Linked DNA regions of Homo sapiens. The protein of the gene in region 3 purifies or fractionates together with the protein of the main gene of each other region. This does not show direct contact. Each region holds a gene or a part of one and is shown on either strand. Other genes may lie near its edges. The genes, in order: CA5B, L2HGDH and NT5C3A.

Evidence for each region.
Region 1: the proteins of NT5C3A (region 3) and CA5B fractionate together in Homo sapiens (co-fractionation; one large-scale study listed by BioGRID). This does not show direct contact.
Region 2: the proteins of NT5C3A (region 3) and L2HGDH purify together in Homo sapiens (affinity purification with mass spectrometry; one large-scale study listed by BioGRID and IntAct). This does not show direct contact.

The regions. Positions count from the first base shown.
Region 1 is NC_000023.11:15,772,716-15,776,368, forward strand, and holds part of CA5B (carbonic anhydrase 5B, mitochondrial precursor), read left to right. Parts: intron 1-1,586; coding exon 1,587-1,682; intron 1,683-2,530; coding exon 2,531-2,593; intron 2,594-3,653. UniProt on the Homo sapiens protein: Mitochondrial carbonic anhydrase that catalyzes the reversible conversion of carbon dioxide to bicarbonate/HCO3.
Region 2 is NC_000014.9:50,246,108-50,249,760, reverse strand, and holds part of L2HGDH (L-2-hydroxyglutarate dehydrogenase, mitochondrial isoform 1 precursor), read left to right. Parts: intron 1-2,507; coding exon 2,508-2,703; 3' UTR 2,704-3,653.
Region 3 is NC_000007.14:33,017,639-33,021,291, forward strand, and holds part of NT5C3A (cytosolic 5'-nucleotidase 3A), read right to left. Parts: coding exon 3,634-3,653; intron 2,087-3,633; coding exon 1,997-2,086; intron 1-1,996. UniProt on the Homo sapiens protein: Nucleotidase which shows specific activity towards cytidine monophosphate (CMP) and 7-methylguanosine monophosphate (m(7)GMP). CMP seems to be the preferred substrate.

The DNA.
Region 1 (3,653 bases), on a different chromosome or scaffold from region 3:
TGCTAAATAGCTTTCTCAGGCAGTTTTGATCATTCTCAGCTAAGACATGTAAAAATGTTAACTTCTCTCATCTCAAATAATATAGTTGAAATGAACCTTAAGATCCTGAAACTGAATTCTTCTGGAATTCGAAAGTGGACTCAAATAGTAGCCCAAAGTAATAACCCAGGGAACATTGTGGAGCCACAGGTTGAATTAATGCAAGTTTGCGGTGGTGGGAGCCTAAATGAAGGCTGTGGCAATAGAAATAGAGAAAAAGGGCAAGATTTATCAAGCATTTCTGAAATTAAAGCAACAGGACTTGAAGGTAGGGTTCTCTTCAGGATAGGAGAAGGCAAGGTTAACCACGACTTTGTGGTGTCTCACTTGGGAGGCTGGGTGATAATGCACTCATAACTGATGAATGAGGAATGATTTGTAGGGAAATAAAGGGAGATTTTAAGGAAATAGAATTTCTTCTTACAACTTTTTTCCTAATTCAATTGTAAATGTTATGTAAAAAAAGCCCATTTAAAAATTTATTTTATATTTTTTATATTTGTTTCATTTTATTTTGCTTTGTGAGACAGGGTCTCACTCTGTCACCCAGGCTGGAGTGCAGTGGCACAATCACGGTTCACTGCAGCCTCGACCTTAAGCAATCCTCCCACCTCAAGACAACAGGCGCACATCACCATGCCCTGCTAATTTTTTTTTTTTTTTTTTTTTTTTTGGGACAGAGTTTTGCTCTGTCGCCCAGGCTGGAGTGCAGTGGCGTGATCTTGGCTCACTGCAAGCTCTGCCTCCCGGGTTCACACCATTCTCCTGTCTCAGCCCCCCAAGTAGCTGGGACTACAAGCGCCCACCACTGCGCCCAGCTAATTTTTTGTATTTTTAGTAGAGATGGAGTTTCACCGTGTTAGCCAGGATGGTCTCGATCTCCTGACCTTGTGATCCACCCACCTCGGCCTCCCAAAGTGCTGGGATTACAGGCGTGAGCCACCGCGCCCGGCCTGCCCTGCTAATTTTTAAATTTTTTTGTAGAGACAAGGTTTCACTATGTCGTCCAGGCTGGTCTCATACTGCTGGATTCAAGTGATTCTCCCACCTTGACCTCCCAAAATGCTGAGATTACAGGTGTGAGCCACCACACCCAGCCTAAAAGCACATTTTAAATGGTTATTCCTTGAAGAAGAAATTTGTCTTTAACTCCTGCATAATTTCCATATGGAGGATCTATTTCTCTCAATATAAACATCTTCTCTCCTGTAGATGCAAGTGGATTTCGAATATTGGTATTTCATTCAAATCAAGATGGGACTGGACAAATGTTGATTGCTCACTGAAGTGTCACTTTGTTATATGAATTTTCTATTTTTCTCCCCAAATAAATCCCTTTATTCTAAAATAATATTAATTGCTGCTCTTGCCTAAATTTCTTCCTGATCTTTGTTTCTATCTCATTTTGGATTGTCATATGGTTTTCTTGGTGGCTTTACTTTGGGTGAGGAAACATGTTTAAATGTCATAGGTTGACTGAGGCTGTGGGTTTATTCTGGAGAGATTCTGTATAGTCACGTGTTAACCCTCTTTTCATGGTGTTTCAGCTGCACTTAGTGCATTGGAACGCAGTCAGATTTGAAAACTTTGAGGATGCAGCACTGGAAGAAAATGGTTTGGCTGTGATAGGAGTATTTTTAAAGGTAAAATATCTCACCAACTTTAAATGACGTGTTGTATTCTAGGATGAAAAGATAGAACAGTATAATATTGTTATTTACTTTAAGAATGTTGGGATCCATACATTGGTAAGATAAATAGTGCTTGAAGTACAGGATTGTTAAGAATATATTTTAGGGCCAGGCATGGTGGCTCACGCCTGTAATCCCAGCACTTTGGGAGGCCGAGGCAGGCAGATCACTTGAGGTCAGGAGTTCGAGACCAGCCTGGCTTCCATGGGGAAACCCTGTTTCTACTAAAAATACAAAAATTAGCCAGGCATAGTGGTGCGCACCTGTAATCCTAGCTACTCGGGAGGCTGAGGCAGGAGGATCGCTTGCTTGAGCCTGGGAGGTGGAGGCTGCAGTAAGCCAAGATTGTGCCACTGCACTCCAGCCTGGGCAACAGAGCGAGACTCCATCCCCCCCACCACCAAAAAAATATATATATTTTAAATGATATAAAAATGCACAGCCCAATAGAGTGGTCACAAGCCACATGTGGCAATTGAGCACTTGAAATGTGTCTACTGCAGTTCTGGAACCATTTTTCATTTTATTTAATTTTAATTTCAATTTAAGAACTTAAATGAAGCAGGGGGCACCTTTCACTGCAGGCATGCTGACCTTGTCAGCAAACAGCCTGCTGATTTGTTCTCTAATTTAATTCAGTAATGTTTATAAAATTATAAATTACAAGTTTAAGTGTAATTTCAGTCATGCAGTTTGTTTTTATGTAATCACCAGGTAGTTAATTTTAATTCACATTCTGTTACAGTTTCTACAGTGAGATGTCCATTGTTTGTAATATTTTCTTACTTGTTGTTCTTTAGCTAGGCAAACATCATAAGGAGCTACAGAAATTAGTGGATACTTTGCCGTCAATTAAGCATAAGGTACTATTTGTTTTCCTTAATTACTTGAAATATACTTTTATGTTTCAATCTCAGAGCGGAGACATTACCAAGGCACTTTGAATTGGGAAGTTTAATTAGGTGAACTGTATTCAGCCTTAGAAGAAAACTTGCCATTTATGATTCCAGGGGACAGAAGTCATCATTCTGTGGGTAGGCAGTGAGCTTTCTGGTTTTGCTGCAGTGCCGCTGAGGACTTGGGGACTCAGGAACATATTGCTGTCCCCTCCTCTGTTCCTGACACCGGCTCCTTCTAAGTCCTTGTGAACACACCCAGAGCAGCCTTCTGTTCTGTAGCTGCCATCCCACAGGCAGGGAGCAGAGCGCAGTTCTACAGAAACTTGCCTTGTCCAGCTAGAAAGAACAGTAATCCACATCCTTCAGGTCGGATGCCTTTGTCCAGTCCCCCAATATTAATTCTTCAATATTCAGAATCTCAAAGGGCTGCTCTCTGGAGGCCCATATATTCTCTTCTTCTCCCTCTCATCCCCCACTGTATCCCTCTGGTCCCCACCTCTTTCCCTCTCCTTTCCTCTCTGGAAGCCCGTATATTATCTCCCCCCATCCCCCACTCTGACCTTCTGGTCCCTACCTCTTTCCCTCTCCTCTCATCTCCATTTTCCTGTTTTTCCCTCTCTTTCCTTTTAGTTCAGGTTTCTGGCTCCTCCTGAGCTGCATTTCTTCTTAAAAGGACAATTCTCAGTTAGCCTCTCGAAAATGCAAAGCCTCCAACCGGGCGCAGTGGCTCACGCCTGTAATCACAGCACTTTGGGAGGCCGAGGCTGGCGGATCACGAGGTCAGGAGATCGAGACTGTCCTGGCTAACACAGTGAAACCCCATCTCTCCTAAAAAATACAAAAAATTCGCCGGGCATGGTGGCGGGCGCCTGTAGTCCCAGCTACTTGGGAGGCTGAGGCAGGAGAATGGCGTGAACCCGGGAGGCGGAGCTTGCAGTGAGCCGAGATTGCACCACTGCACTCTAGCCTGGGCGACAGAGCGAGACTCTGTCTCAAAAAAAAAAAAAAAAAAAGAAAAAAGAAA
Region 2 (3,653 bases), on a different chromosome or scaffold from region 3:
CAGAAGGAGTCTTTCACTGTAGCCACCACAGCTGGGAATGTGCTGGGTCACACCTGAAGCCAGCACATCTCAGAGTCTCATCCAAGGCCCATGACGCACTCCTTGGGTATCGCTGCTGGTTATTCAGGGCCCAAGGGCTCTTTAGTCAGCAGGTAATGTATCCTGCTAGGACTGGGTTTTTCCCTCCAAGGCAGTAGGTTCCCTTTTGGCCCGGGGTGGGTCTAGAAATGTTGTTCAGGAGCTAGGGCCTATAATGCGGGCCTCACAACTCTGCCCAGTGCCATATCCTACTGTGGCTGAGCTGGAATCCAAGATGTAAGACGGTCCTCTTTACTCTTTGCTCTTTGCTCCTTAAGCAGAAGAAAGGAGTCACTTCTATTGCAGCTGCCTTTGTTTGGGGGATGGATGATGCAAGCACTCTTTTAGCTATGCCGGCTGGTATCTCCCTAGATCACATGCCACCCTAGTCCACTGACTATAAGCCCAGCCTAGTGCTAGTAGCTGAGGAGTTGGAGTCCTTGTGCCCTAGACTGTATTTCAAGTTTATCTAGGACCCCAGAGCTTTTCAGCCCACGGTGGTGAGGCTTGCAGGGAAACTCAAGTTCTGACCACTGGGATGGATGCTTCCTGTCTAGCTGGGGCAGGTCCAAATGCTCCCTCCATGTGCTGGCGCTGGCTGAGCCCAGCCCAGCTTTATTCTCCACTGTGACAGGGCAGCACTGAGTTCAGTGTAAAGGCCCCCAGCCACTGTACCCTCCCTTTCCCAAGTGCATAGGTTCTGTCTCCACACCACATGGCTGGCTGCTGCTAGGGGGTGAGGGAGGGGTGGCATTGGCGATGCAAGACCATCTTTTCTGCCCTCCTCAATGCCTCTTTCAAAGATATGAAGTCAAAACCAGCCACTGTGATTGCTCACCTGATTTTTGGTTCTTGTGACGGTGCTTTTCTGTGTGCAGATAGTTAAAATTTGGTGTTCTAGCAGCCGAACCAATGTTTGTAGGCTTCTTTTCCACCGTCTTGCTCCACTCACTCCCATATCTGATTCTTACTTGGAAATTCTTACAGCTAAAAAATCTCTTGTCCAGATTCCCTGCAGGATTCTATAGGGAAGATCACTTATCTTTATCATACAACCTTTCACTCTTACTGTTATAATTCTTATTTACCTCTCTACGAATGAATAGTATAGCTCTGTGATTTCAGGCAAGTTACTTAATCTCTCTGTGTTTCTTTGCTGTTAAATATAAACTGTGTCAGCCTCTTAAGAGTTGTTTTGAGGATTAAATGAGGTAATTCCTAGCACAGAGTAAGCACTTACTAAATAATAGCTATTACTATTATCTCTCTTCAGCCAGCTGAAGTCTTAGAGGGCAGTGCCTTCATAGTGTTCTTTGTATCTTCTGCAAGTACTTATCTGATTTGTCCCAGAATTAGTAAAAAATGTTTAATATTGTTTCCTGATTTCTTGAGCCTTGCTGGTGTGTATAAGATAGAATTTTTCACACTGGGCTTCCTTGGACAAGTTTCATAAGAGGTGCTTTTTTGTAGTTCAAAAACATTGGATTCAAATTTCATCTGTAAATTTTAACTGTTTAAAAAAACAACAAAAATCTGTGAGCTCAAATGTTATAAAATAGAATTTTAAGTAATAAAGATTATCAGTGTCTTTACAGTTGTTCACACCTATAATCCCATCATTTTGGGAGGCTAAGGTGGGAGGATCACTTGAGGCCAGGAGTTTGAGACCAGCCTGGGCAACGTAGGGAAACCTTGTCTCTACAAAAAAAAATTTTCTTTAATTAGCCAGGCGAGGTTGTGTACACAACCTGAGCAACAGATCAAGACTATCTCAATTAAAAAAAAAAAGACTCTCATTTTATTAACATGCTGCTAAATTTATTTTTATGCTTTTCCTATCATCTTTTGAAATTGAAGATGATCCTGATATTGAAGGGTAAACTCTTAAAAACAAACTGCAAAACAAGAACTTGTTGCCATTTGCAAATATTTCTCTCCATAAATTTTAATTGTGTGAATTTTAAAAACACAAAAATAAGTAGAATAGGATACAGGAATGCAACTGACACATAACCTCTGCTTTCATTGATTTGTATTACTCAGATGAGGCTTATTGTTGCCATTGATTGATTTTTATAATAAATTCATTCTATAAATTTAAATAAAAATATACCTGTTCTAATTAAGTGTGGATTTACCTACTACCTTTGGAAAGAGCAGACATTGATAAATAACTTACTTGTTTTTATGTATTTCTTTGATAAGCGTTTGTTACACTATTGTTACGTAATAGGTTTTAGGCTCTAAGCTAACAATATAGGTTTGACAGGCTACAACTGACAGCCTTTGGTTAAACATAAACTCATTGGGTTTCCATATAATTGTGCATTTAGAAGAATACTTTATTGCTTTAAGACTTTTTGGAAACGCTGACTTGTAAAGTATCCTATGTCTTTGAGTCAGCTGACTCCCATCTTTTACTTTTGCAGGGGCCCAGCTGGAGTAAGAGCCCAGGCCCTGGATAGAGATGGAAATCTGGTAGAAGATTTTGTATTTGATGCAGGAGTTGGGGATATTGGAAATCGCATTCTTCATGTGAGAAATGCACCTTCTCCTGCTGCTACTTCTTCCATTGCAATTTCTGGAATGATTGCAGATGAAGTACAACAAAGATTTGAATTATAAATAATGAAAGGAGCTAGGTATGCACTGTAATCTTCATGTCAGCAACAAGAATGTACTAATTGCATTCTTTAATTTAAAAAATGGTTTTTAAACTTTAGTTTTTAGGTCAAAGATAACCACTGCATTGTTAAAATGATGTAACATAGAAATAATAATTTTCTACAAAAATTAGCCAGGCATGGTGGCGCATGCCTGTAATCTCAGCTACTCAGGAGGCTGAGGCAGGAGAATCAATTGAACCGAGCAGACGGAGGTGAGCTGAGAGCTGAGATTGCACCACTGCACTCCAGCCTGGGTGACAGAGCAAGAAAATAATAATAATAATAATTTTCAAAATGTTAGGCTGGGGGCCGTGGCCAGCACTTTGGGAAGCCAAGGCAGGTAGATTGTAGCCCAGGAGTTTGAGAACAGCCTGGGCAACATGGCAAAACCCTGTTTCTACACAAAGTTAGCTGGGTCTGGTGCCTCTGTAGTTCCAGCTCCTCAGTAGGCTGAGGTGAGAGGATCACTTGAGCCCAGGAGGTCTAGGCTGCAGTGAGCTTATGTTCATGACACTGCATTCCAGGCTGGATGATAGAGCAAGATCTTGTCTCAAAAAAAAAAAAAAAAAAAAAAAAAATCCAGCCTGGGCAACATAGTGAATGAAACCCCATCTCTACAAAAAATACAAAAATTAGCTGGGCATGATGGTGTGTGCCTGTAGTCCCAGCTACTTGGGGGCTGAGGCAGGAGGATCGCTTGAGCCCGGGAGATCAAGGCTACAGTGAGCTGTGTTCATGCCACTATACCCCAGCCTGGGCAACAAAGTGAGTCCCTGACTCAAAAAATAAAAACAACAACAAAAAATAAATTCCATGCTTATTTACTTTGCGAATAAAGAGGCAAGGTACAGTTTTATCTGTCCGAATCCCTGACTTTTATTTATTTTTTTTTTCAGACGGAGTTTCACT
Region 3 (3,653 bases):
AAGATATAGTTCCTTTTTACTTAGAAGCTAAAAAAGTGAAATATTCCTAGTAATTCTATGGCTCACTCATATTCTCATTTCAATATACTGCCCAAGAGGGCTGTTATTGATATCTACAATACTACAAGTTTTTCAAACAACAGTTAACTCTTTACTTTCCCTTTAATCAATTCTAATACTACAAACTAGATGTCTTTAAGCTTTCACTGAATATGAATATAAACCTACAGTTCACAATTTATACCATTTAAAAAGAAATAGGCAGGCATAGCAGTGCATGCCTATAGTCCCAGCTATTTGGGAGGCTGAGGCTTGAGGATTGCTTGAGCCCAGGAGTTCTAGTCCACTCTGGGCAACATAGCGAGACCCTGTCTCTAAAATGAAATTTAAAAAGAGAAAACAATAGTTAAGCTACACCTTGAAAACCCCACTTAGGGGTTAAAACATGGATATATTAACACTGAGAAGGATGGAGTCCCATAGTGGGCCTATCAACTTGGCCTAACTTAATGGATATATATTGACCAACAACAAATACATTTACATGATTAAAATATTTTCAGATTTTAAAATTATGAAGAATGACTTGATATTCTTACAGTTTCATCAAAATCCATAAAATTGAAAAGAAAAGCAGAGTGGCAGGAACTTAGATGTATTCTCGACATCTGGCATGTGTCTTTACTAAGATCTTAAGCCCTCTTCCCTTTTTTACCCTTCCTGGGCCATAGGTTAAAGAATGCTAATGTTGCCTACTAAGGAATGAAACACTTACTAGCTGTCCTCACACTTTTTCTGACAATTTATTGCTTTCCTTTTTAGAAGTAATCACCTTAAAATATAACATCATCATAAAAAAGTAACATCATCATATTTGCCTAATGAGTTGAAAATTTTACGAGGTAATAAACAGTATTAAACAGGCTCTTGGGCCGGGCGCAGTGGCTCACGCCTGTAACCCCAGCACTTTGGGAGGCGGAGATGCGCAGATCACAAGGTCAGGAGATCGAGACCATCCTGGCTAACTCGGTGAAACCCCGTCTCTACTAAAAATACAAAAAATTAGCCGGGCGTGGTGGCGGGCGCCTGAAGTCCTGGCTAGTCAGGAGACTGAGGCAGGAGAATGGCGTGAACCTGGGAGGCGGAGCTTACACCACTGCACTCCAGCCTGGGTGACAGAGCGAGACTCCATCTCAAAAAAAAAAGAAAAAAAAAAGCTTCTTGTATCTTATAACTCATGCATACATATATAATTATGTACTAAAACATACTAATCTTTCCTAGGAATAGTTTTCAAAGAAGTTCGAGAATTTAAAAAGTAGGCTTATGTAAATTTAGACATAGTATACTGCCAGGCATGGTGGCTCACACATATAATCCCAGCACTTTGGGATCGCTTGAGCTCAAGAGTTCAAGACCAGTCTGGGCAACATGGTGAAATCCCATCTTTACAAAAATATACAAAAATTAGCCAGGCATGGTGGTGCATGACTGTAGTCCCAGCTACTTGAGAGGCTGAGGCAAGGGGATCGCTTGAGCCCAGGAGGCAGAGGTTGAACTGAGGAAGAGATTATGTCACTACACTCTAACCTGGGCAACAGAGAGAGACCCTGTCTTTAAAAAAAAAAAAAAGTATACTTAAATCCCTTTTAACTTGATTTATACATTCCTTTCATATGTCTTTCCTAAGTATTTTGCTAAAAAATTTTTAAATGGCCTTGGTTCAAAAATTTTAAGTCTTGACATTTTTAATCTGGAGAAACAAAATACAAATTAGAATTTAAATCTCATAAGGCTCTTACTACCTACACCAAGATCTAATACGTCATTCTAAATTCCTTATCTTACCACTATGTATTTTGTGATAGGTGGCATATTTTGGATATGGTTATATAAGGAATATTCAATCTTATTTTTAAAAAGTACAACTGACTACATAAATAGCAATAATTCAAGTCTGTGAACAATAACAGCAAAAAACATCCAAGAAACTTACTTGAGCATAACGTCAGATTCTGCCACAATTTCTTTAAGTTTAGCTTTTGGTAAAGCTTGCTGAACAAGCAAACCATGTGATTTAGTATACCTGGAGTTTATGACCAAAGGAAAAAAGACTATCAATTAAGACAAACTAAAATTATTATCTTTATTACAAAACATTCTTCCATGTGAGAAAATCTGTTCCTCATATTTGGATTTAAATTTTAGAGATTGAAGTTCATCACTAATGAATGTATACCTCATGTCTCAAAATGTGATATGCATGTTCTTACTGAGTTTCCCAGTCCTCCCAAACCCAGACTTAGCTTAAATATGTTAGTAAGGTAATGAAAGGAAACTAGCTATAAACCTTTCCTAATTCTACACATAAAAACTCAACCCAACCTATGGAAGCATAATCCTTTCTCTGATTGCAGTAAAATGAATTAGAGCAACCCCATTTTTAAAATTTGTTTGTAGTTTGAATTTTCTACATACTGAAGATGCTACTTAGTGAACAAGAGAGAAAATCTTTGTTATGGCAAGTGTCATATACAGATTAGCCTGCTTTATGTAGAAAACACCTATAATCATAGCATCTCAGTATAAAGGGCCCTTAGACTCTCTAACCCATTACAATTATGCAAACAGCCACTAAAAACAGAAAGAAAGAAACGAAAAGAAAAAAAAGCCTAACTCTTCATCTGATACCTAAAAATACCCCTATAATATTCCTAAGTCACCTTCTTCCCTGCCTGGGTCAGCTTCTAACATGTCAGTAAGCTCATTCTCCCAGGGAAGCTTATTCCATTGCCAGAAAACTCTTAATTGCTAGACAGGCTTTTCATTTCTCATGCTGAAATCAATCTTCTTATATCTTCCAAGTCTAGTTCCAGTTCTGCTGCTACCAGTTTGTAGAGTTAAGTCTAATATCTTTTCAACATTTAGTACCACAAATACAGATGAAGTATGCAACTGTTACGTAACGGGACAATAAAGACAAATCATTCCTGGTCTCCTAAGATTTTAAAACAAGTTGTTCCTTCTCAAATCAAAGCATTTTCTATTCCTTGAAATGTTCGTCAAGTGGGAAGGCTCAAATTCCTCTGATCATTCTGGTGGACTACTCTGACTCCTTTTAAGTTTGTCATGATCTATTTTTTTTTTTTTTGGTCACTATTGTCATGGTTTCTCTTAACAGCATTCTTCCAGAATCCGACACAGTGCTTTCAGTGTGATCTGCCTGGAACACTGCATTTTGATTAATGCAACCAAAGGTCGATTTTTGGGTAACCATATCACCTGCTGGCTCTGAGTTCAGACTCAGTTTAAATCCTCATACCTTTTCTTTACACATTAAGCCACGTTTTGTTCATATACTTAAAAAAAAATTCTTGTTTTTAATTTGAGACTTAAATGCAGGACTTTTAATTTATTCCTACTGGACTTCACCTTAAATAAACAAAACAAAAGGATTCCTAAACTGTTAGAGAGATTAGATAATTAGAGCTCATTTTGTTATTCAATGCTCTAACTTGCATAATTTATTAATCTGTTTGTTTGCAATACAGGTAAAAAATAAGCCATCAGTTGTAACTGCAGTGTTGTTTTATTATTTTTTTTTAATCCTCCTACTGCCTAATATACACTTACCATTCCACCATATAAGGGTA